7 separate regions of the Homo sapiens genome follow, and all the other regions are linked to region 7. The links come from fine-mapping of genetic effects on gene expression. A gene starts in region 7. Each other region holds a variant in brackets. All regions are shown on one strand. Distances are from middle to middle.

Region 1 (4,078 bases), 53 kb before region 7:
TGCCTCTGCCCCGCCGCGACCCCGTCTGGGAACTGAGGAGTGTCTCTGCCCCGCCGCCACCCCGTCTGGGAGGTGAGGAGCGTCTCTGACTGGCCGCCCAGTATGAGAAGTGAGGAGCTCCTCCGCCCGGCAGCCGCCCCATCTGGGAAGTGAGGAGCATCTCCGCCTGGCAGCCGCCCCGTCCGGGAGGGAGGTGGGGGGGTCAGCCCCTGCCCAGCCAGCCGCCCTGTCCAGGAGGTGGGGGGGTCAGCCCCTGCGCAGCCAGCAGCCCTGTCAGGGAGGTGGGGGGCAGCCCCCACCAGGCCGCCGCCCCGTCTGGGAGGTGGGGGGCGCCTCTGCCCGGCCACCCCATCTGGGAAGTGAGGAGCCCCTCTGCCCAGCTGCCACCCCGTCTGGGAGGTGTACCCAACAGCTCATTGAGAACGGGCCATGATGACGATGGCGGTTTTGTTGAATAGAAAAGGGGGAAATGTGGGGAAAAGAAAGAGAAATCAGATTGTTACTGTGTCTGTGTAGAAAGAAGTAGACATAGGAGACTCCATTTTGTTCTGTACTAAGAAAAATTCTTCTGCCTTGGGATGCTGTTAATCTATAACCTTACCCCCAGCCCCGTGCTCTCTGAAACATGTGCTATGTCCAGAAACGGTTAAATGGATTAAGGGCGGTGCAAGATGTGCTTTGTTAAACAGATGCTTGAAGGCAGCATACTCGTTAAGAGTCATCACCACTCCCTAATCTCAAGTACCCAGGGACACAAACACTGCGGAAGGCGGCAGGGCCCTCTGCCTAGGAAAACCAGAGACCTTTGTTCACATGTTTATCTGCTGACCTTCCCTCCACTATTGTCCTATGACCCTGCCAAATCCCCCTCTCCGAGAAACACCCAAGAATGATCAATAAATACTAAAAAAATTTAAAAAAAAATGGCAAGGATTAAAACCATGACAAGAAGATTAGAAAGGGTATTTTCATTCATTATTAGTGGGGGGTGTCAACTTGTACTAACTTTTCAAAAGGCAATTTGGCAATGTCTATGAAAGTTCAAAACGTGCCCACCTTTTGAACCAGACACTCTAGAAATGCTCACCACTGTGTACAAAGATAGATGACAAGATAAAAAAAAAACCAGGTACTGCTGAGGTTGTAGAGAAAAGGGAATGCTTATACACTGTTGGTGGGAATGTAAATTAACTCAACCATTGTGAAAAGCAGCGTGGCAATTCCTCAAAGAGCTAAAGAGAGAATTACCATTCAACCCAGCAATCTCATTACTGGGTATACAGCCAAAGGAATATAAATTGTTCTACCACAAAGACGCATGCATGCATATGTTCACTGCAGCACTATTCACAATAGCAAAGACATGGAATCAGCCTAAATGCCCATCAATGGTAGTCTGGACAAAGAAAATGTGGTACATATACACCATGGAATACTATGCAGCCATCAAAAAGAATGAGATCAGGCCAGGTGCAGTGGCTCATGCCTGTAATCCCAGCACTTTGAGAGGCCAAGGTGGGAGGATCATGTGAGCCCAGGAGTTCAAGACCAGCCTGGACAACATAACAAGACCTCATCTGTAGACCTCGTCTCTACAAAAAAATAATAATAACAATTTTAAAAAGAACAAGATCATGTCCTTTGCAGCAACATGAATAGAGCTGGAGGCCAGCAACATGAATAGAGCTGGAGGCCATTATCCTTAACACACTAACACAGGAACAGAAAACTAAATACTGCATGTTCTCACTTATAAGTGGGAGCTAAATGATGAGAACTAATGGACACAAAGAGAGGAACAACAGACACTGGGGCCTACTTGAAGGTGGAGGGTGGGAGGAGGGAGACGATGAAAAAAAAAAATAACCATTGGGTTTAGTACCTTGGTGATGAAATAATCTGTGCAACAAACCCCCGTGACATGAGTTTACCTATATAACCAACTTGCACATGTACCCCTGAACCTAAAATAAAAGTTAAAGAAAAAGACGACAAGAGAGATCACTGCCACACTGTAGCAGAAATTACACAGAAGTCCTTCAATATGGGGCTGATTAATAAATCGTAGTACATGCATACAAGAAAAAAAAGCATCTCTTAAAAATATCTCTATGTCCTGATACTGAAATACCTTCCATCAACAAGTGTTCATTAAGTAGGGGCTATTCCAGCTATGCCAGTGAGCAGCTGTGCAAGCCCATGCAATCTGCTTATCCACTCTGGTACTCAGCTTCCTTAGCTGTAAGAGGTAGATAAAAATGGTACCTACTTCCTAAGGTCATTGTGAGAATTAAAAGTGATCATGCATATATAATGCTTAGTATGGTGTCAGGTGCAGTGTGAGCTCACTACATGTCGGCTCTTGTTGTGTCACTTTTGTTATCATTATCATTTGTATTATCATTATCATTACCACTATGACCATTATTAATACTATTCTGGGCAAATGGAATGGCAAAACAGTTTTACATAATGAGCAGATTTTAGCAAAA[G/C]GAAGACATTTACATACGTATATATTTATATGTGTATGTAAATATAAAGAGAAAGAACAAGGGGGAGAGAGAGGTGTATAGGTGGAAATTAACCAAATTCATCAGAAATTGGTTATTTGGAATGAGTGGTGATATGAGATTATAAGTGAATTCCCCCTTTCAGATTGTATATTCCTCAAGAGTTTGGATTTTTGGTGTGCCACTTCTAAATCACTTCTGTAGGAAGAGAAAAAAATGACAAAATAATATAGACTTTCTTAAAAAGGGCAGAAGGGAAAGTACTGAACATGCTTAGGGACATCATGAATTCTGAGCCTAAAAAGGAAAAGGGCAGACCTTTGGGTTGCTCAGGCTGTTCTGAAACCCCAGATGTGGAAAAACTACATATAGATCAGAAAAGAATTTGAAGGGCATGAGGTTTACTGATTCTTCCTGATGATCAAGGTCCATATATTGAGCCAGAACATAAGAGCTATTTGTGCAGACATGGCTTTGATTTCCTGAAGAGTCACATATTTTTAGTTCTGCTTTAGCAGGACACCTTTGGTTGACATGCAGACATATTTTAAGTCACAGCAGAGCAATCCTATCTCTGTATTTATCACAAGATTGCTGATAAGGGACTTGGCTGACGCATCAGAGAACTGTCTTATCAAAGAAATCTTTGCTTCTGAGGAAGTGGCTTACTTTCTCTGTATGGGTGAGATAAATAAAGCAAATGAGCTTTTTTCCCCCTCTATGTTGTGGCTTCTAGGAAGCTCAGAAAAATAACTGTAGCTCAACATAATTATGTAGAATCCTATGATCTACATATAGACATTTCAACCTGGCCTTGGTTTTGCTCTACTTCCCTATTCCATTTTATGTGTTTATATGTATCCATTTTATGGTATTAATAATAGTATAATAATAATATTAAACTCATATATAAGACTTACGTATGTGCTAGGCATTGTTGTAAACACTTATATTGACTCAATTGATCTACACAACAACCATACAAGGCAGGTATTATTATTATTATCATTAACATCATCATCCCTATTTTACAGTTAGAGAAACTAAGGCACAAAGAGGTTAAATGACGACTCTGTCCGCAGACCACCAGCCCTCTCACTTCCGTTCGATGTAAACTCTCTGCCCCGCCTCATACCCTGCTCTGATGTTAAGATCCGAATGCTTATTCAGGCAAGGTCCCCTTGTGTTTCCAAAATCAGTCACAACTTCCTCTGACAGCCACCTTTTTCCGACCTTTATCCTGCATTAATTAGGTACTGCCAGTCACTATACTTGCTCATGCGCAGTACCGTTCCCAAAGCCGTCGGTGCTAGCAGCCAAAGTTGTTCTGTGGTTTTCTTTAATTTAATGATTAAATTTTTTTAATTGTACATATTTGTAGGGTGCAGAGTGGTATTTCAATACATGCATACAATGTGTAATGATCAAATCAGGGTAATTAGCATGTGCATCACCTCAAATATTTATCATTTCTTTGCGTTGGGAATATTCAAAATCCTCTCTTCTAGGTATTTGAAAATGTACAATAAATTATTGCTAACTATAGTTATTAAGCAGTGCTATAGAAC
Region 2 (4,078 bases), 500 kb before region 7:
CGTCTGAGCTGGGATGGGAGTTGGAATGGACCAGAAAAGGCAGATGGGTGATGATTCGCGGGGAGACTGAGATGGGCCAGAAGGATGTGAAGGAGGAGGAAAAGTATGAGGATGGAGTGGGAAGAGCCAGATGATAGGAGGACTAGGACTCGGGCCAGGAGTTTTAGGGATGGGTTGGTGGCGGGGGGGCGAGTTTGGCAGGGAAGGCTCTGGGCTGGGCAGGAAGTTGCAGAGGGTGGGTCAGCCAGGTGCCTGGGAGGCCCTGGAGGAGGAAACTTTCCCAGGGCCTTTGAGGAGGAATTCGAACTGAGTGCAGTTTCTCTGGGATTCTGGCACCAAATTCCTGGGGTGGGGGTGCGGAGCCTCTGGTGGGCCGGGAGGAGCGAAAGCTTGGGGGAAGGGCTTGGCTCAGGCTGGAGAGAGTTCGTGGGACCCCTGCATAGGACCTGGGTCTGAGGAGCAAGGGAGCTAGGGCTGCTCTACTGGGGCAGCGGCCCGCTTTGTGAGCAGCAAGGCGAAGGCTGCTGTAGGGGTCCCCTTACTTGAGCTGGGGGTGCGGAGGTCCCCCTGCAGCGGCGGTGGCGGGTGGCGGCACGTCCTGGCTGGGTTTCTGGGCCAGCTGTGGTTTGGGACGTCCAGCGGGGCCCGGGCCGCTGGGCCGAGGCTGCTGCGTGGTGGGTGGCCCAGTGCGGGGCACGGGACCCGCCTGGCTGGCCTGGCGTGTGGGGCCGGCTGGGCCTGGGGGTTTCTGGGGCGGGCCCTGGCGCTGCTGCCCGCCCGGTGGGGCCCCAGAGGCCTTTGGCGGAGCCGGGCCAGAGACGGATGTCTGACGGGTAGCCTGTGGGGGGCCCGCCTGGCGCTGGGGAGACGGAGAGGCGGGCGGGCGGGCTGCTGGAGGCGCCCCGGGGCCTCCCGCCACTGGCCGGGATTGGCGGCCTTGACCCTGGGTCGGCGGCGCGGCCTGGGACGCGGGCTGCTGGGGCGCTGAGGTGGGACTTGGAAGGCGCTGGGGCAGGGGGCTGCCAGCTGGGGGTCCAAGGCCTGAAAGGTGCTGCTGGCCCTGCGGGGGCGGGCGCTGCTGCAATGGGGGTCCCTGGCGCTGGGGGCCTGGACCCGGCTGTGGAGGGCCGCCTGGGGGACAGAGGGAGAGAAAGAGCACACGTGAGAGTGAGCGGGTAAGAGATGGCGGGCTGAGGGAGGGGACTGCGACCGCCAGCCTCTCGCTTACCCTGTGGTGGGGGTCGCTGCTGAGCCGGGGGCCCTGCGGGCTGCTGGGAGGTCTGGCGGCCCAAGGGCAGGGCCCCTGGGGACGGAGTCTGCGGCAGAGGAATGGAGCAGGAGAGGTTAAAAATAGTTACCAGCCAGTGGAGCATCAGCCAGTGATGACACAGGTTCCCTGTGCGCTGGGTGTTGCCCCACTTGTGGCTGAGCTGAGGGTACTCTGGGTTGTGGGGTGGGGGACCTGTTCCCAGGGGCGGGGCAGGGAGGTGCTCAGGGAAGTCAGGGCAGCAGCTGCTTATCAATGTTTTAAACAATTGGCAATCGCAGCCACATGTGTGCAAAGGTGATGCTGTGAGCCTACAGATTATCAGCTTCATGGCACAGCATGACCCAGGGCCGGCCTCCCCACACTAGCTCAAGCCACTAGCTCAGCGCCAGGGGCCTGACCTGGCCATGGGAGCCCCTGCCAGGGGAGGCATCCCGCTGTCGCTGCCGGGGCAGGGCCTGAGCCATCTTGTTGACCACGAGCTCTACGATGAGCTGTTTGTCTTCATCCTGGTGGTCACCAATGAGCGGCATGGAGGAACCCACCACCTGGGGGAAGGAAAGGATCCGTGAGGGGAGAGGCAGGCCTCGCACCTGAGGCGGCAGTAACACCGTGCTTTCAGTTGGCCAAGGGCATGGCCGCCGCTGAGCCCCAGTGTCTGAGGCACTGATTGTGCACGGTGAGGAAGGCTTGTCTGTTCCAAGGTACCTTACAGCTTAGAAGGTGCTTCAGAGCAGGGCTCAGCAAATTAGGGCCCATGGGCCCAACCTGGCCGACCACCTGGTTCTGTATGACCCAGAGCTAAGGATGGGTCTTTAAATTTTGTAACAGTTGAAAAAAATCGAAAGATTTTATAACATGCGAAAATGGCATGAAATTTAAATTTCAATGTCCATAAACAAAGTTTTATTGGAACACAGCCACACTT[A/AT]TTTTTTTAACATATCGTCTATGGCTGCTTTTGCAGAGTTGAGTAGTTACGGCAGAGGCTACGTGGCCTACAAAGCCTAAAATATGTACCGTCTGCTCCTTTACAGAAAATGTTTGCCGATCCCTGCTTCACGGTTTTCTAGGTGCTTTGTCCTTTCCAAAATGCTTTGCTGTCGGTCCAGTTCGCAGAATACTTTAAAGGTTACTAAGTGCCTCGCCATTCACCAAGATGTCTCGATTCGCAGAGCACTAAACAATCTAATAAGGGTTTTGCTAGTCACCAGGGACGTGCAAGTTCAGTCTAGTGTTCTGCCATTGCAAGGGATGGCCCCTTCGAAAGTTCGTCAGGCACCTTACAGTGTACTAAGCACATTGCTGTTGGCTGAGGACCTCTGTGCCATGGAGTGCTTCAGTTTGCACTGCTGCTGCCTGGCATCTGTTCCTCCCTCTACCCCACCTACCCCTGGGTGCTCATACCTCAATGATGTGATCCCTTCCGTCCTTGCCATGTAGCGCTTCCACTGCGCAGATGTCCAGTCCCCCAAAAATCTCTGAGCACGTGTCCACCCACAGCTTGTATCTGCCAAGACAAAGGGTGGGGAAGCCTGTCAGTCTCTCACCTGAGCTGTCGTGCTCCCACCCCCGCTTCCCCTCACACCCTGAGTTCGGGCTGCCCACCTGTCAGACATGGCAATTTGCTCCAGCATCGCAGAGCCAGTATTGGTCTTCCAGTTCCCTGACACTGACGTCCTCCTGGGGGACAAGGGGACAGAAGCTCAGGGGTGCCTCAGCTGCATGAGGCAAGGCAGGGGACCCCTTCCAGGGCTTTGGTCTCTCCACTCACATGTAGGCCTTGTAGTTCTGCCCAATCTTCTGGACACGCACGTCATATTTGGCATCGATGAAGGGCTCGGCAGTGGCATACGTCTTGGTCAGTGCCACGACACTTGCGATGTCCTGGAAGTCATGCTGGTTGTCAACCTTGACCTGTGGAAGTGCGGGCAAGGATCAGGGCCTGGTCAGGATAGGGCAGCTGTGGGGAGTGGGGGTGCCTGGGGGAGCATGTATACATGACACACAGGTGAGGCGAGTACACAAAAATTAGGTGGACATGCCAAGGCGCTCAAGCAGGCACGATCATGGGTCTCCTGTTTTGTATGTGAGCACACAGGCACAAAGTTGGGTGTGTAGAACACTGAGCATACCAAAATGTATTGGATTGTCTACTTTAAATGGGTGAGTTGTAGGGTGTGTGAACTATCTCTCACTAAAGCTGTGAAAAAACTGTGTATGTACAATATACTAATATAGGCATCCAGACACAAAATCAATTGTACACACAACATGCTAAGATACAGAAACTCGGACACAAATTACAAGTCTACTTTCTACGTACACAGAGACAAAATCAGATGGATGTAAAGCACACAGGACCCCAAGACTTTGGAACATAAAAGATCACACCACATCATGTGTGTTCGGCACAGGCATGCATGTACACACAGACACGATGCTGGAGACAAGCAAAATAACAGGACACACAAAATTGGCTGAATGCAGGAGGAAAAAGGGGTCGATGAGGTCAGCTGAATGTGAGAAAACAAAAATCTATTAGGTTGGTGCAAAAGTAATTGTGGTTTTTACCATAAGAACTGGCAAAACCCGCAATTACTTTTGCACCAACCTGATAGATAACGACACCCCAGGAGACGCGATCACACAGAATGACTGGTGTGCATTGCACAAATACACATCTACCTATGCACAGCCCAGCCAGAGACTCACCTTGCCCATCCCAGAGTGTGCGTGCCCCATCTTCACAACCACGGGGTACGTTGTACTGCTGAGCTGGTGGGGAAAAGGCAGAGGAGACATGCTCAGGGC
Region 3 (4,078 bases), 45 kb before region 7:
TTTTTTGTATTTTTAGTAGAGACGGGGTTTCACCATGTTGGCCAGGATGGTCTTGAACTCCTGACCTCAGGTTATCCACCCGCCTCGGCCTCACAAAGTGCTGGGATTACAGGCGTGAGCCACCACACCTGGCCTTCTTTACTTTCTTTCAGCAATGTTTTGTACAGGTCTTGCATCTGCTTGGCTAACTTTATTTCTCAGTATTTTATTCTTTTTATCCTATCGTAAACAAAATTGTTGTCTTAATTTCCATTTTGGCTTTTTCATTGATAGTGTATAGAAAAGCAATTGATAGTTGTATGTTGATCTTGCATCCTGCCATTTAGCAGGATTTGTTTATGAGTTCTAACAGTTGTTTTTTTTGCAGATTATTTAGGATTTTCTATATATATATAAATCATACCATCTGGGAATAGAAATAGTTTTACTTTCTTTCTAATTTGGGCATCTCTTATTTCTTTCTTTTGCCTGAAAATTTATCTGGCTAGAACTTTGAGTACAATCTTTAATAGAAGTGACAAAAGTAGGCATCCTTATCTTGTTACTATAACTCTCTACCCTTAAACTTTTATGCCAGAATTTCTAAGGACCAGATAGAATGAATTATGCCTTTACTGTTATATAAGTAAGCCAAAGATGGCCTCTATGTTTGACCCCCAGGTTGTTTATTTCTTCACTGCAGGCTGAGACCCCTTAACTCAAAAGTTTGCTGGCACCAAACAAATTTTTACATACCCAAATATTTCATAAATAGCCCAAACACATAGATTTTTAGCCACTGAGAGTCTTCCTGCTTTACATACCCCAGAAAACCTGGTACTACATCTTTCATCTTTGGGGAATAGATAAGTTAGGCCCCAGGCCATAAAATACCCAAAGCTGCTGCTGCTGCCCTTCAGAGTTCTCTGACCCAGAGAATTTTCTCTTTGCTGCTGAATGACATCACCTAGACAAATAAGCCCCCGTCTTGATGCCCCAGCACTTCCCTTGTCGTTCTGCCCTTCCGAATAGTTGACCAGTGGCCATAACCTCTGTACAGGCTCGGGCTGTGAGGGACTTCATGCAAACCTGTCACAGAATCACCCCATAACCCTTATTGTGCTACGCCACCTTGTGGTCATTTATTTCCTTCATCAGCGCCCTAAATCGCTCAAACTCCCTGTAAGTGACAAAGAGGAAAAGGGAAGGATTTCTGGTAATCATGAAATAGATAGGAGACAGTAGGACAAATAATTGGTAAAAGAATCCTGGATGGTCTCAAGCGGTGGAACTCTAAACTTGGAATGCCATTGCATCAGTTTGGCATGGGACTGCTTTGTGCTGTGTCACATACTCTACATTTGTGGGTTTTCTCTGTGCCTCACTAGCCTGGCCAAGCAGTAACACCAGTATTTGAATGAATCCACTTCATTAGAACTGACTTTTGGGATCAGGTGTGGAACTGCCTGGGGAAGGAGGTCACCCTGCCCGCCTGGAGCCCCACTAGGCAGGGAAATGCTGGGGCACGCACAGGGCGCTATAAGGCCTGTGGGTCTGAACACAAAAGGTTGGGGGAGTACACATCTCTGGACTGAGGGTAGGCTATCCTGACCCCATGACTGGCTAGAGTGGTAGGAGCCCCGTGAGTTGGCCCTGTGATTTTGGGTACCCTGAGACGCATATGACACGTGAACATGGCTATAAAGCAGCGATGTCGGGCTGACGTGGATCCCCTAAGCACAGCTGGGGGAGGCGCTTTTGTAAACAGCTAGCATGCCTCTGTTCTTGTCGCATTTGAATTTGCTATTACAGATGACATCATTTCTGTTCCTTTCCGGAGCAATATCAAGACCCCAAATTTGTTGAGGTGGGGCAAAACTGTTACTTCACGTGACTAAAGACGTTTATATTGCTGTCCCAACCAGGACTCCAAAGGAGGTGGCTGTCCTCTTGAATCCAAACCAGGGGACCCATGTTGGGCTTGCGCGCTTCTCGCCAGGACACGGCCCAGAGGGTAGGTCTCTCATTCATAGTAGCCACATTAAGCCTGGCTGTCTACTCTAGTCTATGATCGGGGCATAGAATAATAATAACCCTTATTGTGCTACGCCACCTTGTGGTCATATAATCTTCTTTCATCAGAGGAGACCAGAAGGCGTAGAAGACCCCGGAGAAGAGGACTGGCGCCCTCTAGAGGATGACGCG[A/G]CACAATACCACCATGAGAGAGTGAGGAACTTGACCTTCTCCTTTGCCAGTCACCAACAGCAAAGTCAAAAAAACAGAAGAGACAACAGGGGAGGGTCAAGAAGGAGAGGCCATTTCTCATTTGGAGGAGGAGACACCCTCTGTCTCACCCGGAGCCCCTGCCTGTCCGTAAGGACCTAGCCAGGGAACCAAATGAAAAAGCTACCGATGGCCGGGCGTGCTGGCTCACGCCTGTAATCCCAGCACTTTGGGAGGCCAAGGCGGGCGGATCATGAGGTCAGGAGATCGAGACCATCCTGGCTAACACGATGAAACCCCGTCTCTACTAAAAATACAAAAAGAAATTAGCCGGGCGTGGTGGCAGGCGCCTATAGTCCCAGCTACCGGGGAGGCTGAGGCAGGAGAATGGCGTGAACCCGGGAGGCGGAGCTTGCAGTGAGCCGAGATCACGCCACTGCACTCCAGCCTGGGCGACAGAGCGAGACTCCGTCAAAAGGAAAGAAAAGAAAAGAAAAAAGCTACAGACAATGTATCGAACAGAGCACAGCAAGCTCCACCTGACAGGGGCTGAAGTGAAGCACTTGGCTGCCCCAGGACGGTATGGAAAAGTGGCTTCCCTACTAAAGGATTCTGCACAGTTAGTACAGAAGCTGAGAGTGACTCCCAGGAGGCTTTGCATTGCAGTCCATGTACACCTGGTCAGTATGGATTTTGCATTTTTGTGAATTTTGGTGGCTTGGAAAGCTGCCCACCCTACACGAGGCCTCACAACCCCCTGGGCAGAATGGCGGTGGAAAACGTTAGCTGAGGCCAAAGATGTCCTCCATCAGCTCTGCACATTCCAGTGGGATTATCTGGTGACAGATGGCAGGGCATGAGGACTCTATAGTCTGAGGAGGCTGAATGGAGTGCTGAGCCCACACAGTAGTTTCTCAGGGAGCACCTGACAAGTACAAGTCCTGATTTCTGTCAGCGATGGCTAAGGCTAAACAATCCACCAGGCCATGGCTGCCCTGGATGGAATAGAATCTCATGGAGGACAAACTCACAGCCCAGTGTTGCCTGCAGTTATGAAAACAATGCCCCACCTGGCCTAAATCACAAGGAACATCACCGGCAAGGCCGCCCCCTCATAGTGCAAATAAACCACCACCAGCCAGGCCCCCAGTTGAGCGGGAACCCTGAGATGCACGGAAGAGGTCATCTATTAGTCAGGGTTCTGCAGAGCAACAGAACCAATAGGAGGCGATATGTCTACGTCTATGTGGAGATATGTGGGATTTATCGTAAGGAATTGGCCCACATGGGCCCAGAGGCCCACAGATCCCAAGACCTGTAGTTGGCAAGCTGGGAACCCAGGAGAGTGGGTGGTGCAGGTCCAGTGTGACGGCCAGCAGACTTGAGGCCAATGAAGAGCTGACGTTTTAGCGCATGCTCCAAGGCGGGAATAAACTGATGTCCCAGCCCCAGCACTCAGGCAGGAGGAGTCCTCTCTGACTCACGGAGGGTCAGCAGTCCTGTTTGCCTCAGGCTTTCAACTGGCTGGGTGGGGCCCCCCACATCTAGGAGGGAGGTCAGCTTCACTTAGTCTTCCAGAGAAAGGTTAAGCTCACCCAGAAACACACTCACAGCCACACCCAGGACAGTTTGATCCATTGTTTAGGCACCCTGTAGCCCAGGCAAGTTGACACGTAAAATTCACCATCCCGGGTTGTATGGAGCCTCAAGGGACAAGAGGATCCCAAATTGGATGTGCTCTGATAAATCAGTGCAACAACACAATACGAGCCAGGGTGAGGGGACAGCCATGGCAGGCCTCTGCTTCCAAGGCAGCCTCACCTTCAACACCTGCCTTGATCTCTGCCAGTGACAGGGACCCACCCCACACAGATCC
Region 4 (4,078 bases), 110 kb before region 7:
TTGTGCCTAAACAAAGTGTCTCTATGATTTGTTGGGATTCTCTGAGTCATCTATGTTTGTAAATGTTTCCTGTGTATTCCTCATTGGATTTAAATATGTGTATGTATACCCATATCCATGTATCAGACATAGATCAAGCTTAATAATTGTGCTATTCAAATGAGTCATTATTTTTTGTCTGTTTAAGAGATGTGTGATAATTTCTGTCTCTGTAATTGAGGGTTCATCACTGACTTTAAATCTATGTCGTTAGGTACATAAACATGCCTTACCACCATGTCTTCTGATGAATGTTACCTTTTATTATTATTAAAATATCCTTCTTTGTCCCACTTAATGTTTTTGTTTTCAAATTTTATGTCCATTTTTCATTTTGTTAGCATTTTCCTAATTTTTTTTGAGACGGGGTCTTGCCCTGTCACCCAGGCTGGAGTGCAGTGACACAATATCAGCTCATTGCAGCCTCAACTTCCTGGGCTCAAGCAATTCTCCCACCTCAGCCTTCCGAGTAGCTGGGACTACAGGCATGCAACATCATGCCTGGCTGACTTTTATATTTTTTTGTAGAGATGGGGTTTCGCCATGTTGCCCAGGCTGGTCTCGAACATCTGAGCTCAAGCAATCTACCTGCCTCAGCCTCCTAAAGTGCTGAGATTATAGGTGTGGCCACCATGCCTGGCCTAACTTTTTATTTTTAAAGTTATTTTTCAAAATTATGAAATATTTCAAACAAACCAAAAGGTATAGAGAAAAGTACTTGGGTAGTGTGCAGATCACATGTTTGTGTCCCCTTTCCCTGCCCAATTCATATGTCAAAACCCTTAATGTTAACCTTAATGGGATGGTATTAGGAAGAGGGGCCTTTGGGAAGTAGTTAGGATTAGATGAGGTCACAAGAGTGGAATCCCCATGATGAGGTTAGTGTCTGATATGATTTAGATGTCTATCCCCTTCAAATCTCATGTTGAAATGTGATCCTTGATGTTGGAGGTAGGGCCTAGTGGGAGGTGTTTGCATCATGGGGGCACATCCCTCATGAGTGGCTTGGTACCATGCTTGTGGTAATGATTGAGTTCTCACTCTATGAGTTCATGTGAGATCTGGCTGTTTAAAAGAGGCTGGCATACAGAGTGATATAATAGACTTTAGAGACTCAGAAGGGGGAGAGGGAAGAGGGGCCAAGGATAAAAAGAAACTACACAGTAGGTACAATATTTGCTACTTGGGTGATGGGTGCACTAAAATCTCAGAATTCACCACTATAAAATTCATTCATGTAACAAAAAAACACTTGTACCCCAAAAGCTATTGAAATAAAAAAATAAAAGAGTCTGGCACCTCTCCCCTCCCTCTCTCTTGCTCCCTCTCTCACCATGTGACATGCTGGCTCCCCTTTACCTTCCATTATGATTGTAAGCTTCCCCAGGACCTCACCAGAAGCAGATGCTGGCACTATTCTTCATGTACAGCCTGCAGAACCACAAACCAAATAAACCTCTTTTCTTCATAAATTACTTGAGTCTCAGGTATTCCTTTACAGCAATGCAAAAATGGACTAACAGAAAATTGGTATTGAGAAGTGGGGCATTGCTATAAAGATACTTGAAAATGTGGAAGCAGCTTTGGAACCGGGTAACGGGCAGAGGTTGGAAGAGTTTGGAGGGCTCAGAAGAAGACAGGAAGATGAGGGAAAACTTGGAACTTTAACGTTAGAGACTGGTTAAATGAATGTGACCAAAATGCTGATAGATTGTGTTGAGTCTTGACAACGAAAAAAAATGCTGATAGAAATGGACAGTGAAGGCCAGGCTGACGAAGTCTCAGATGGAAATTAGGAATTTATTGGGAGCTGGAGCAAAGGTCACCCTTGTTATGCTGTAGCAAAGAATTTGGCTGCATTGTGTCCATGCCCTAGGGATTTATGGAAGGTTGAACTTAAGACTGATGACCTAGAGTATCCAGCAGAAGAAATTTTTTTTTTGAATGTGATTCTTTTATTGTCAAGAGAGTAAAGAAGACATATTACTGGTTTGTGGATAAGAACAAATAATATGCTGCCTAGCCGCCCAACTGTCTGGGAAGTGAGGGGCGCCTCTGCCCAGCTGCCTACCGTCTGGCAAATGAGGAGCGCCTCTGTCCAGCCGCCCAACTCTCTGGGAAGTGAGGAGTGCCTCTGCCCAGCCACCCAACTGGGAAGTGAGGAGCGCCTCTGCCTGGCCACCCCGTCTGGGAAGTGAGGTGCCCCTCTGGCTGGCTGCCCACCATCTGGCAAGTGAGGAGCGCCTCTGCCC[G/A]GCTGCCGCCCTGTCTGGGAAGTGAGGAGCGCCTCTGCCCAGCCTGCCGCCCCGTCTGGGAAGTGTGGAGCGCCTCTGCCCAGCTGCCCACTGTCTGGGAAGTGAGGCGCGCCTCTGCCCGGCTGCTGTGCAACCTTCCAAGTGTGAAGTGACAGCCTTGTGTGTGATCTTTTCTGTCTTCCCCAAGTTTGCATTTTCAACATTAAAGTTTACTTTTCAGTTAAAAGTAAAAAAAAAAAAAAAAAAAAAGAGCAAATAATATGATAATATGATCGAAGGAGATGACAAATATTTTCTCAGTCATATGTGATCTTTAGTTAGTTTTTTTTTTTTTTTTGAGACAGAGTCTCACTCTGTTGCCCAGGCTGGAGTGCAGTGACATGATCTTGGCTCACTGCAACCTCCACCTCCTCCAGAAGAAATTTCTAAGCAGCAAAGCATTCAAAAAGAGGCATATGGATAGATATGGGAGCAAAGAAATGACTTAAAAGTTGGAACTCATATCTAAAAAGGAAGCAGAGCATAAAAACTTGGAAAATTTGGCTGGGCGTGGTGGCTCATGCCTGTAATCCCAGCACTTTGGGAGGCCGAGATGGGCAGATCACCTGAGGTCAGGAGTTCGAGACCAGCCTGGCTAACATGGCAAAACCCCGTCTCTACTAAAAATACCAAAATTAGCCGGGTGTGGTGGTGGGTGCCTGTAATCCCAGCTATTTGGGAGGCTGAGGCAGGAGAATCACTTGAACCTGGGAGGCAGAGGTTGCAGTGAGCCAAGATCGCACCATTGCACTCCAGCCTGGGTGACAGAGCAAGACTCCATCTCAAAAACAAACAAACAGACAACAACAAAAATAAACTTGGAAAATTTGCAGCCTGGCCATGTGGTAGAGAAGGAAAGAGCATTTTCAAGAGAGGAATACAAGTGGGCTTTGGAGCACCCGCTTGCTAGAGAGATTAGCATGACTGAAAAGGAGCCAAGTGCCAATAGCCAAGACAATGGGGGAAAGGCCTCAAAAGCATTTCAGAAACCTTCGGGACAGTCCCTCTCATCACAAGCCCAGAGGGCTAGGAGGAAAGAATTGTTTCATGGGCCAGGGCCGGGGCACCAATGTCCTGCACCACCTCAGGAGGCTGTTCCTCACATCCCCGCTGCTCCAGCTCTAGCCTTGGCTCAAAGGGCCCCAGACACTGCTCTTGCCACCATTCTAGAAGGCACAAGCCATAGCCTTGGTGGCTTCTCCATAGTGTTAAGCCTGTAGGTGCACAAAATCCAAGAATGGAGGAGGCTTGGCAGCTTCCAGCCAGATCTCAGAGGATGTATTGGAAAGCCTGTATGGCCAGGCAGAAGCCTTCCACAAAGGTAGAACTCCCACAGAGAGACTCTACTAGCGCAGTGCCAAGGGGAAATATGGGGCTGTAGCCCCCATGCAGAGTCCCCACTGGGACACTGCCTAGTGGAGCTGTAGGAATGGGGCCACTGCCCCCCAGACCCAAGAGTGGTAGAACTACCAGTGGCTTGCACCCTGAGCCTGAAGGCACTTAACTCCAACCTGTGAGCGCAGCCAAGCCACAGATGCAGAGTTGCCCAAGGCCTTGGGAGCCCACCTGTTGTACAAATGTGCCCTGGATGCAGGACATGAAGTCAAAGAAGGTTATTTTGGAGCTTTAAGGTTTAATGTCTGTCTTGCTGGGTTTCGGACTTGTGTGGAGCCTGTTGCCCCCTTTTTTTGGCTGCTTTCTCTCTTTTGAAATGGAAATGTTTACCCAATGCCTGTACCACCATTGTA
Region 5 (4,078 bases), 53 kb after region 7:
CACCACATCTAGCTAGTTTTTGTATTTTCTGTAGACACAGGATCCCACTATGTTGCCCAGGCTGGTCTCTATCTACTCGGTCCAGGCAATTCTCCTGCCTCAGCCTCCCAAAGTGCTAGGTGCGGTGGCTCATGCCTGTAATCCCAGCACATTGGGATTCCAAGGCGGGCAGATCACTTGAGGTCATGAGTTTGAGATCAGCCTGGCTAACATGGTGAAACCCCCTCTCTACTGAAAATACAAAAATTAGCTTGGTGCGGTGGTGAGCACCTGTAATCCCAGCTAGTTGGGAGGCTGAGGCAGGAGAATCACTTGATTCTGGGAGATGTAGGTTGTAGTGAGCTGGGATCACGCCACTGCACTTCATCCTGGGCAACAGAGCAAGAATCCATCGCAATAAAATCGTAAAAATAAAATAAAATAGAATAAAACAAAACAATTGCTAGTTATTTTTGTATTATGACTTTTGAGCTCCATTCTTGTTGCCTAATATTTGTTAAGTCAGTTCTCCCAACAGGATAATGTTGGCCTAGTGCTTCAAGATGATTGCTAATACAGCTGGGACTAACACGATGAAACTTGATACTGAACTCCAGACAAACCTGCCTGATTTTCTTTTTCCTTCTGGCTCTTTATGGCTCAAATGTGGCCCATGTCCCTGATATAGACCCCTTACCTTTCTCTTGACATAGACCGGCACAGGTCCATCCTGGTATGGAGTGACAATGAAACCTCACTTTCAGATGGCTGATCAGTGAGGTTTTCAAAGAAAGATCTTCATCAAAAGAGGGAATGTGAAAGCTGATTTGTTACAAAGAGCATCTCCTGGGCGGGCGCAGTGACCCACGCTGTAATATCAGCACTTTGGGAGGCCGAGGCAGGCAGATCACTTGAGATCAGGAGTTTGAGACCAGCCTGGCCAACAGGGTGAAACCCCCGTCTCTACTAAAAATACAAAAATTAGCCAGCCGTGGTGGCAGGCTCCTGTGAATTCCAGTTACTGCAGGGGCTGAGGCAGGAGAATCCCTTGAACCTGGGAGACGGAGGGTGCAGTGAGCCGAGATCACGCCACTGCACTCCAGCCTGGGCGACAGAGTAAGTCTCCGTCTCAAAAAACAAACAGCATCTTTCGCCTACAGTGATTTGAGCTGTGGTCTTGTCTCCTTGGGTTTCTCTATCAGTCTGACCCCATCTACTCTATCTCCCAGGAATGCCTCAATATTTCTGGTGGACCACTGACATGTTTTCCTATTTTCCTCTACTGTTAAGAATTGACCCTTGAAAATATTTTCTCCCAGTTCGATAGAATGTTGAGTGGGGCACGGCATCTATCTGCCATCTTGCTCCAATCATCTGGTTTTAGATATTTTATGTACTTTTGTCACTATATAAGTGTATTTTTTCTCAATTTGGTTTTCTAAATGATTGATATTGGTATGTAGAAAACCTATCTATTATTGTATATAATATTTTGTTACCTGTCTGTGTGCAGCTTCCCCTGCATTTTGGCACAAGACTCAATTTGTTTTGTTCTCCAAAAGAAAAGTGACAGGCTGGGTGTGGTGGCTCACACCTATAATCCCACCACTTTGGGAGTCGGAGGCAGGTGGATCTCGTGAGGTCAGGAGTTTGAGACCAGTCTGACCAAGATGGTGAACCACCTTCTCTACTAAAAATACAAATAAAAAATTAGCCGGGCATTGGTGGTGTGCACCTGTATTCCCAGCTACTAGGGCAGCTGAGGCGGGAGGATCACTTGAACTCGGGAGGCCGAGATTGCAGTGAGCCAAGGTGGCACCACTGCATTCCAGCCTGGTGGACAGAAACTCTATCTCTAAATAAAAAGAAAAAGAAAAAAGAAAATTCACTTCACAGGCAGTAGATAGTTATAAAAGGATAATTTATGGGCGATTTCATAGGGGAGACTGATGGAAAAAAAGGAAGTATACATTCTACAGAGCTGAGCAGTTCACTGCAAAAATCACCAGAACTGCCTTTTTCTCCAAAAATATTACCCATAAGCTATTCTACTACTGGTTTTTCTAGTCCTTCCCTCTATTCCAAATCCTCAAAATTGTCCTTTTCCTTATTGGGATAATTTTCCTCTGCCCAGATCTGGGTCCTCCACCACACTTAACACTGTCTGCAAGTGTGTGAATTCCCATTGGCTTTGGGCCATACAGGACACCTCTAGACAGACTATACTGAGAAGCCATGCTTGGAACGGTGCATGGGGAGAGGACAGGAGAGGGAATTTACATACCTGGCTCTCACTCCTGGTTCTTTT[A/T]CTTATTGGTCAAAATTTACCCCACAGGCACGAACTCCCCCACACTTCTAGATTGCATCATCTGCCCCTTTGGCAGCTGTCTGGGAAGCCAGATCCCACACTTTGAAGTGTAGTGTTTCATACAATCCAAAAGTGGTAGCAGAGGCCAGGCGTGGTGTCACATGCCTGTAACCCCAGCACTTTGAGAGGCCAAGGCGGGCGGATCATGAGGTCAGAAGTTCAAGACTAGCCTGGCGAGCATGGTGAAACCCCGTCTCCACTAAAAATACAAAAATTAGCCGGGCATGGTCGCACGTGCCTATAATCTCAGCTACTTGGGAGGCTGAGGCAGGAGAATCACTTGACCCTGGGAGGCAGAGCTTGCAGCGAGCTGAGATCGCACCATGACACTTCAGCCTGGGTGACAGAGCAAGACTCCATCTCAAAAACAAAATAAAGCAAAACAAACAAAAAATCAAAAAGGTGGTAGCAGAAACCAGAAAGTCCAGGTATGTAGCTAATTGGCCTAGTTGTACAGCAGCAGCCAAGGGTGAAAACTAAATACTCCCAGGCAAGCCCTAAGTTCACCAAGTAATTGGAGTACCCATCTGTGTTAGTTAATTGCCTTTATCTGAAGGAAAAATAAAACTCATATTTCTGTGACAAGCAGGTGCTTACAGCTTGGAGCAAGGCATCTAGGCTAAACTCCCCTGGTGACAGGGAGACAGTGACATCATCTTCCTCGATGTTCACATTTCAAAAAGACGGCTCCAAGGCCCTAAAGAAAGACATTTATAGGGACCGGGCATGGTGGCTCACGTTTGTAATCCCAACACTTTTGGAGGCTGAGGCTGGAGGATCACTTGAGGCCTGGAGTTCAAGTTCAAGACATTCCTGGGTTATAGGGTGGCCAGAGGCTTACATATCAAAGGAGGAATTTACAAGTACAAATTTTTTCGAGGAAATGCTCTAAGGAAAGTGAAGTCTCTTCTTGCCCTTTTGGCAACAGGAAAATCTCAATTTTATGTTTAGTTACCCTTACAATTTCCCCCTTTTGTTATTCTTTTATAGCAACACTGCAATATTCTAATTATCTCCACTGCTGTTTCTTTCTCTGCCTAGTTTACAGCCACCTAGATATCCAACAAGTCCATAGTAAGATGCAAAGCAAAGCAATTGTCAAGATAATAATAGAATGATTTTTTTTTCATGACGGAGTTTTCATCTCATTGCCCAGGCTAGAGTGCAATGGCACGATGTCAGCTCACTGCAACCTCTGTCTCCTGAGTTCAAGTGATTCTCCTGCCTCAGCCTCCCAAGTAGCTGGGATTACAGGCATGAGCCACCAGGCCCAGCTAATTTTGTATTTTTTTGTGGAGATGGGGTTTCACCATGTTAGCCAGGCTGGACTTCAACTCCTCACCCCAGGTGATCTGCCCACCTAGGCTTCCCAAAGTGTTAGGATTACAGATGTGAGCCACCATGCCCGGTCTAGAATGAATTTTTAAATTCAGTATAATAATCACCTTGTCAGGGGGTGGGGCGATCTTTAAACACATCATATTGGTTAATTGTGTCAAAGTCAAAATAAATTATAGAGACAAATCCCTAAATCAAATGCTCTATTTGGGAATCACAAAATTACAATTCAGGGCATACACACAGACTAGGGTGGTCTTCAGTATGTGCAATGAACAAACAGAAGTTGGAAGTTTTATTAGAAAGAAAAATGTTACATATTGTTTAGAAATGAGGCTCATTGGCACTGGAGAAGCTGGTTCATTTGCACAATCAGCTTTCACATTCCCTCTT
Region 6 (4,000 bases), 450 kb after region 7:
GCTCCTCAGACTGTGCTGCTTCGCCTGGGCAGCCAGTGCTCCTCGGTCCTTTCCCATAGTCCCTCTGCTTGAGTCACACTGTTAGGTCTTTTATTTGGGTGAAGTGTGCAAAATATGTTTATTTATTTTACTTATAAAATAACTTTTAGGCTGGGCATGCTGGCTCACGCCTACAATCCCAGCACTTTGGGAGGCCAAGGTGGGCAGATCACTTGAGGTCAGGAGTTCAAGACCAGCCTGGCCAACCTGGCGAAACCCCGTCTCTACCAAAAATATAAAAAATTAGCCAGGCGTGATAGCATGCACCTGTAATTCCAGCTACTCGGGAGGCTAAGGCAGGAGAATCACTTGAACCCAGGAGGTGGAGGTCACAGTGAGCCCATGCCACTGCACTCCAGCCTGGGCAACAGAGCGAGACTCTCTCAAAAAAAAAAATCACTTTATAGAGATGGAGTGGAAAATCCAGGTTTTACTTGTGTTAATTATTTCACTTCATTATTGTTTAGGTAGAATTTGCAAGACTTCTTAATTTTTTTTTTTTTTTTGAGACAAGGTCTGTCACCCAGGCTAAAGTGCAGTGGTGTGATCACGGCCCACTGCAGCCTCACATTCCTGGGCTCAAGCCATCCTTCTGCCTCAACCTCCTGAGTAGCTGGGACTACAGGTGCATGACACTAAGCCCGGCTAATGTTTTTTTAATTTTTTTTGTAGAGACAGGGTCTCCCTATGTTGCCCAGGCTGGTCTTGAACTCCTAGGCTCAAGCAATCCCCTTGCCTCAACCTCCTAAAGTGCTAGGATAACAGGCATGAGCACCCTGTTTTATTTAATTTAAATATATATATATATTTTTAGACGGAGTCTTGCTCTTGTTGCCCAGGCTGGAGTGCAATGGTGCGATCTCAGCTCACTGCAACCTCCGCCTCCTGGGTTCAAGCAATTCTCCTGCCTCAGCCTCCTGAGTAGCTGGGATTACAGGCACGCACCACCATGCTGGGCTAATTTTTGTACTTTTAGTAGAGATGGGATTTCGTCATGTTGGCCAGGCTGGTCTTGAACTCCAGGCCTCAGGTGATCCACCCGCCTCAGCCTCCCAAAGTGTTGGGATTACAGGCGTGAGCCACCACGCCCGGCCAAAAAAATATATATTTTATTTTACTTAGGTTGAGTGTACAAACCCTGGATTCTGCACTTTAAAATTTTTCGTTAAAATGTATGCACTATTTTTGTTCATGTTGAGTATGCAAATACCAGATTTTACTCCTTTTTAAATTAAGAACAATTTAAAAATAACATTTATTCATATGGCTCTTGCAGAATCCAGGTTTTTGCTTCTCTTTTAGTTAGGTTTCAGTCAAAAACAAAACTTTGTGTTTTTTGATATTAAAAAGTTTTTAATTCAGGTTAAGTGTGCAAAATCTGGGATTTGCTTTTCTTTTTTTTTTTTGAGACACGGTCTCACTCTGTTACCCAGGCTAAAGTGCAGTGGCACAATCATAGCTCACTGCAGCCTCAAACTCCCAGGCTCGAGCAGTCCACCCACCTCAGCCTCCCAAGTAGCTGGGACTAGAGATGCATGCCACCACACCTGGCTTTTTGCTTCTTTTTAAATAAAGTTTTTGTTTTGTTTTCATTAAAATATTTTAAAATAGTGAATGCCTATCATGTGCTTCAAAAACCAAACAGTATTCAAGATATTTAGAGAAAAGATTTGCTCCCACCCTCTGCCCCCTACCCTCTTACAGGTTACATGGTGAGACGGGGTTTCACCATGTTAGCCAGGCTGGTCTCAAACTCCTGACCTCAGGTAATCCACTCACCTCAGCCTCCCAAAGTGCTGAGATTGCAGGCGTGAGCCACCGCACTGAGCCCACTTTTATCCTTTTATTAAAATATCTTTCCAAAATTTAAGCATATCAAACAAATATAAAAATATATTTTAATTCTACCCCCTTGCCAGTTTTTACCCTAAAGATAACACATGAATGATACTGTTCTGCAATTTTTGAAAATCTTCCACATCAGGATATAGTGTCCTCATTCATTTTTTCCACTATGAGGAAGTGACACAGTTTATTTTTTCTCTTATTTGTGGACATCAGGTAATTTCTAGTCCTTTCCTATTGCAAGTGATGTTGCAGCAGGA[A/C]CTCTGTACCCAAGTGGATCCACACAGGTGTGGACAGATCTGTAGGATCTGTTGATAGTCTCAATGGAGTAGTACTTTTGTGCTCTCCCACCAGCAATGCCTGAATGTGCCTGCTGCCCCACCAGTACAGAGTGCCTCTCAGACTTCCTGGATATGTTTGCCACTTCAATAAAGAGGAAGATGGCCGGGCGGGGTGGCTCATGCCTGTAATCCCAGCACTTTGGGACGCCCAGGCAGGCAGATCACTTGAGGTCAGGAGTTCGAGACCAGCCTGACCAACATGGTGAAACCCCATCTCTACTAAAAGTACAAAAATTAGCTGGGCATGGTGGTGCAGCATCTGTAATCCCAGCTACTCAGGAGGCTGAGGCAGGAGAATCTCTTGAACCTGGGAGGTAGAGGTTGCAGTGAGCTCAGATCGTGCCACTGCACTCAAGCCTGGGTGACAGAATGAGAGCCTGTCTCAAAAAGAAAATAAATAAAATGAGGAAGATTATTAATGAGGCTGAGCATCTTTTCATATGTTTAAGAGCCATTTGTTTTTCCTTTACTGGAATGACCTATTCACCTTCTCTGGCAATTTTTCTTTCCAAAAAATTAATTTTTAGGAGCTCTTTATATATTAGGGAGATAACAGGTCAGAGAATGGGATCACTTTGTTTTTAAAATGATTTTTAAAGAAGAAGACAAAAACTATATCTGGTCACCTTTCATATGTACCTAGGCCCTTCTGCGGGGCCTCGCCTAGAGCAGTCACAGAAATGTCCTTGGGCAAAGGATGGGTTTTCCTAAGAACTTCTTTGTCCTTGCTAAGTGGGACCATCACCTCTTTCTCTCCCACAGGGCTACGGCATGGCATACACTGTCCACAAGTGGTCAGAGCTCAGCTGGGCCAGTCACTGGGTCACTTTTGGATGCTGGATCTTCTACCGTCTCATAGGCTGAGGCACATCTGTGGACCCTCATAACCCTCTTAAGACCCCTCTCAGGGTGCCACTGATGGGGGATGAGGGAAGGCCCTCTCTCTACTCCTTGACCCCCTCCATCCTTGACCCCCAACACCTCAACACACACACACACACACACACACAAAATCACACCATTTTCATGCCTGTCAATCCCCACCCCACCACAAGGCAGGAAGGGGGTGGTGCCTGCTGGGGCCTAGAGGGGGATGCTTGGGGAAACAGAGAAGGGGAGATCCAGGGCCTCCCCGCCTTCCTTCTTCCTTTTTATATACAATTTGTTATTGTCAAATAAAAGTAGGAAATATTCAATAGGCTTCTTCTTCACTGCTCAGAGGGGAATAGGAATGAGTGAGGAAGGGAGCACAGCATGGATAAAGGTTTGGAAGCTGGAAACCATGAAGAGAGAGCAGACTGTGATTGGTTCATGGTTAGTTTATGATTGATTAGATGATGAGCCTGAAGATGGCAGGATCCTGGTCCTGCTTGGTTTGATCAGGGCAGGGACAGATTGCATAGTTGGATGTGGGGGAGGCCTGATTGGCTGGAAAACTGAAGGATCCCCATTCTGATTGGTTGCTCTGAGTGGGACACAGAGGAGAGAAAGCAAGAGAGATGAAGGGTTGGTGCCTATTTATCCTTAGGACTGAGGGTTGTGGGTTCTAATTGGATGGGAGGTCTGGGATGGGTCTGGATTCTGATTGATTGCTCCATCTGGGGGCCCACTGGTGGTTAGGCGTTTGATTGGCTTTTTAGAACTGGCATATGGAGATTGAGGGTCTTCATGCCAATTGGTCAGTAGGACTGAGAGGCCTGGGTTCTAACTAGTTCTTCTGACTTGAGGTCGGGAGAAGAGAGAATGACCGCTGCTATTAGGACTGAGGAGTTCTG
Region 7 (4,078 bases):
GTGGCGCGATCTCGGCTCACTGCAAGCTCCGCCTCCCTGGTTCACTCCATTCTCCTGCCTCAGCCTCCCCAGTAGCTGGGACTACAGGAGCCCGCCACCACGCCCAGCTAATTTTTTTGTAATTTTAGTAGAGACGGGGTTTCACCGTGTTAGCCAGGATGGTCTCGATTTCCTGACCTCGTGATCCGGCCGCCTCGGCCTCCCAAAGTGCTGGGATTATAGGTGTGAGCCACCACGCCCAGCCGATATTGTCTGCTTTTTAACTGAAGAATGTGCTTTACAGTTCAAAATTAACTGAAAATCTTCATATTTAAAGCCATAAAATGAAAAGAGAAGCCAAAAGCTGGAAGGAGATATTTGCAAAACACATACCACTACTAAAGGAGTGGTATCAGAATATATAAAAACAATTCCTGGCCGGGCACGGTGGCTCACACCTGTAATCCCAGCACTTTGGGAGGCCGAGGTGGGTGTATCACCTGAGGTCAAGAGTTCGGGACCAGCCTGGCCAACATGGCGAAACCCTGTCTCTACTACAAATACAAAAAAATCAGCCAGGCGTGGTGGCAGGCGCCTGTAATTCCAGCTACTCGGGAGGCTGAGGTAGGATAATTGCTAGAACCCAGGAGGTGGAGGTTGCAGTGAACCATGATTTCTCCACTGCACTCCAGCCTGGGCGACAGAGTGAGACTTCGTCTAAAAAAAAAAAAAAAAAAAAAAATTCCTACAAATCATTAAGAAAAGGGCAGAGAGTCCAACAGAAAAATGAACAAAAGACAGGCCCCTCACAAAAGAAGATCTCCAAGTGATGAATCCATATAAGAAAATGTGCTCAAACTTATTGGTCATGAGGGAAATACAAATCAAACCACCAAGTTGGACTTCTCCATCGGAATGTGGACACCACAGGAGCAGAGATTTTTGTTCATTCATGCACATATGATTGATCTGAAAAAGCCACCCATCATGGACCCCACAGAATGTCAACACTGACCCCACACACACTCCCATTCTTGTCCTCATAGACCCTCATCCCTCACCCCAGATCCCCCTATCCACTCACCCCACGGATCAGCATCCCTCACCCTACAGACCACCCATCACTCACCCCAGACTCCCTTCACCCATCCCATAGAAGCCCCATCACTCACCCTTACAGACATCATCAAACACCGCACAGATCCCCCATCACCCCACAAACTCCCATTTGCATAACCCACATACTGTTACCCCTGGTCCCACAGGCTCCCCTATCACTGTTCTCCACGTCACTCAATCCCCTCCTCAGGCCCTCCACTTGTCTCCATCCGTCACTGATCACATAGACCCGCAGCACTCAGCCAGGCCCCTCACCCCGGCTCTGCTCTCAAGCCGGGCTTGGCTCCCCGCCTGCCCAAATGCGTTCAACATCCCCCGAAAGGCCATTTCCCTTCCAGTCTTCCCGGAGAGATGTCAGGGTGACGAGGGAGCTTATCTTTCGGTGGCTCCGAAACAGCCACGAAGCCGAGCTCTACCAGTAACAAAAATGGCGTCATTCCGCCAGCGCCAGGACCTCTGTCGCTGGCCGTGGTCTCGCACTGCTTCTGGAGGCTCCCATTCCAGCCAGAGGAGAGGTGCGTTTGGGGGCCCGGGGGAGTCCTCGTGATATCTCCGAGTTTGGGTATTCGGAATTGATCCTACGAAAGCAGTGTGAGGCTTGGAAGGGCCGCGACTTGTCCGGGTGAGTGGGCGTTCCCGGCCACCAGAAGAGGCACGGCCTGAGCAAAGGCGTGGCGACATGGCAGGGTGGGAAACGGGGAAAGTGGGAAGGCTGGACAGAGCACCCCCCGGGAGATTCCTCCGCAGAAGCGAATTCCTAAAACGTCTGGAGAAAGGGAAGAGACCTTTGACATCATGCAGCCTTTCAGGGGGCTCACACATACCCGCCCACTTCTCCCCACCTGGCCTCGGCGCCCTGCCGCCTTCCTATTGTTCCTGCTTGGCGTCAGGACCCGCCCCCATCTGTCACTCACTGCCCACCGGTCCTCCATTGGCTCCTTTGAACACGGAAGGGCCCACCTTCACCTGTCATTTACAGCCTGGACTTCTGCCTGCCCTAGTTCAAGTAGGCTTATATGGCCTTTTGCAGCCCGTATCAAAACTAAAAGAGTTCATAGAGTCAGAGGTTCGAGGTAAAACCTAAGGGACATTGGTTTTAGACGACTTAACAAAGGGCTGGATTGGAAGTCAGCCCGGAACAGGATTGCAGAGTTAACAAAGGTTCATGTTCGATACAAAACGGGAACTCTGATGGTTACAATAGTTAAGAAAGTCCTAGGATTCAAGACCTCTATCAGGGTGTATGGATGGAGAAAACATTAACAAATATCCTGCTTGAAGATCAAATCAGAGGGGCACTGGTGGTGCAATAGTAACCCAATTCCAAAGTTATTTCAGAGAGGCCTTAAATGGAAGGTTAACTTAGACCCAAATCTGAGCCAAGACCAGAGACCCATTAAAGTCACGTGATGTGGTTAACAGAGCCCCGGAATTCACAGCCTATACCAAAGGGGTAATGATGGTGGAAGAATTAATCAAGGTCTGACTTCAAAGTCAAACCAAATGGCATTCATGATAAAAATGTTAACTGAGGGCTGGGCACAGTGGCTAACACTTGCAATCTCAGAACTTTGGGAGGCCAAGGCGGGAGGATCACTTGAGGCCAGGAGTTAGAGACCAGCCTGGCCAACATGGCAAAACCCTATCTCTACTAAAAATACAAAATTTAGCCAGATGTGGTGGCACATGCCTGTAGTCTCAGCTGCTTGGGAGGCTGAGGCATGAGAATCGCTTGAACCTGGGAGGTGGAGGTTGCAGTGGGCCAAGACTGTGACACTGCACTCCAACCTGGGGGAGAGACAAAACTCTGTCTCAAAAAATAAAAATAAGAAAAAAATGTTAACTGAGGGCCGGGCACAGTGGCTGACACCTGTAATCCCAGGACTTTGGGAGGCTGAGGCGGGAGGATCATGTGAGCCCAGGAGATCAAGACCAGTCTGGGCAACATAGTGAGACTCCATCTCTATAAAAATAAATGTTAACTGAGGATTGGGGTTGGTGGATACAGGAGAAGGGGCACAAGTAGCTAAAAAGTTAGTACAGCCTTGATTTTCTGTACATACCAAAGGATCATAGATGGAGAGGACTCAACTGAGGCCTGCAGTCAGTGTAAAGATCTGAGGGATGCAGAGCGTAGTGGCTCACTCCTATAATCCCAGCATTTTGGGAGGTGGAGGCAGGCAGATCACTTGAAGCCAGGACTCAGCATAGCCAACTTGGCGAAAACCTGTCTCTACTAAAAATACGAAAATTACCCAGACGTGGTGGTGCATGCCTGTAATTCCAGCTGCTTGGGTGGCCGAAGCATGAGAATCACTAGAACCTGGGAGGTGGAGGTTGCAGTGAGCAAGAACTGAGGGGCAGTAATGGGGAAAGAGTTAACAGACATGCAAAAAGATTCACATGTAAATTGCCCTGGTGATGGAAAAGTGAACAGAAACTCAAGCTTAACACATAGACCCAGGATTATTAATTTTCCACCCTCAAAGCCCTGAATTCTCTCTCTAGATCCAAACCCATTAATAGTGGAATGGATAACAGATTCCCCAGTTCAAGGTAAAATTAAGGGTTGATTTAGGTTGGAAGAGTTAATAGAAGCCCAGGTTGGAGAGCACAGATAAGAGACTTTGATGGTGGAATTGCTAACAACAGCTGGGGTTTGAGGTGAGGTCAGAGGGATAGGGATGGTGGAAGAGTTAAGAAGGACATGGTTTGAGTATAGACCAGACGGGCCATCAATGATGGAATATTTCAAAGATGCCTGTATTCATTTCCTGTTGTTGCTATAGCAAATTATCACAGACTTACTTGCTCAAAACAACACAAATTTATTATCTTACAGTCCTACATGTCAGAAATATGATATGGGTTTCACTGGGCACTCCCTACAGAGGCTTAGGAGAAACTCTGTTTATTTGCTTTACCTAGCTTCTGCTAGAAGTCACCTGTATTCCTTGACTCATGGTCCCTTCCTCCATCT

Which allele goes with the higher level. Alleles are on the strand shown, and positions count from the first base shown. SD is a standard deviation of normalised expression in the study named. Not every link is listed here.
As copies of C replace G in region 1, the expression in thyroid of the gene that starts at base 1,727 in region 7 goes up (moderate effect, 0.72 SD a copy in GTEx).

What was found.
Region 1: its variant is fine-mapped to the expression of ZNF630 in thyroid (GTEx, PIP above 0.99).
Region 2: its variant is fine-mapped to the expression of ZNF630 in whole blood (TOPMed, PIP 0.97).
Region 3: its variant is fine-mapped to the expression of ZNF630 in whole blood (TOPMed, PIP 0.92).
Region 4: its variant is fine-mapped to the expression of ZNF630 in whole blood (TOPMed, PIP above 0.99). The same link has a PIP of 0.9 or more in blood mononuclear cells.
Region 5: its variant is fine-mapped to the expression of ZNF630 in tibial artery (GTEx, PIP 0.98).
Region 6: its variant is fine-mapped to the expression of ZNF630 in sigmoid colon (GTEx, PIP above 0.99).

Annotation. Positions count from the first base shown.
Region 1 is chrX:48,016,938-48,021,015 of GRCh38, forward strand. No RefSeq gene overlaps it. Among named protein-coding and RNA genes, the nearest start is that of SPACA5, 12 kb to the left of the region's middle. The variant G/C (reference allele first, on the strand shown) is at 2,493.
Region 2 is chrX:47,573,460-47,577,537 of GRCh38, forward strand. It overlaps SYN1 (synapsin I), which reads right to left. Exons shown (of 13, transcript NM_006950.3): 6 at 3,980-4,042; 7 at 3,039-3,181; 8 at 2,873-2,947; 9 at 2,672-2,774; 10 at 1,669-1,815; 11 at 1,229-1,316; 12 at 543-1,131. Among named protein-coding and RNA genes, the nearest start is that of TIMP1, 6.9 kb to the right of the region's middle. RefSeq lists enhancers at 1,341-1,848, 1,849-2,355, 2,448-2,948, 3,991-4,078. The variant A/AT (reference allele first, on the strand shown) is at 2,196.
Region 3 is chrX:48,024,713-48,028,790 of GRCh38, forward strand. No RefSeq gene overlaps it. Among named protein-coding and RNA genes, the nearest start is that of SPACA5, 20 kb to the left of the region's middle. The variant A/G (reference allele first, on the strand shown) is at 2,185.
Region 4 is chrX:47,963,414-47,967,491 of GRCh38, forward strand. No RefSeq gene overlaps it. Among named protein-coding and RNA genes, the nearest start is that of ZNF182, 39 kb to the right of the region's middle. The variant G/A (reference allele first, on the strand shown) is at 2,292.
Region 5 is chrX:48,123,097-48,127,174 of GRCh38, forward strand. No RefSeq gene overlaps it. Among named protein-coding and RNA genes, the nearest start is that of SPACA5B, 5.5 kb to the right of the region's middle. The variant A/T (reference allele first, on the strand shown) is at 2,288.
Region 6 is chrX:48,517,388-48,521,387 of GRCh38, forward strand. PORCN (porcupine O-acyltransferase) reads left to right here. Exons shown (of 15, transcript NM_203475.3): 15 at 2,988-3,421. The coding sequence ends at 3,089. Among named protein-coding and RNA genes, the nearest start is that of EBP, 2.4 kb to the right of the region's middle. RefSeq lists a silencer at 3,262-3,321. The variant A/C (reference allele first, on the strand shown) is at 2,145.
Region 7 is chrX:48,069,914-48,073,991 of GRCh38, forward strand. It overlaps ZNF630 (zinc finger protein 630), which reads right to left and starts at 1,727. Exons shown (of 5, transcript NM_001282201.2): 1 at 1,354-1,727. RefSeq lists an enhancer at 1,698-1,957 and a silencer at 1,869-2,065.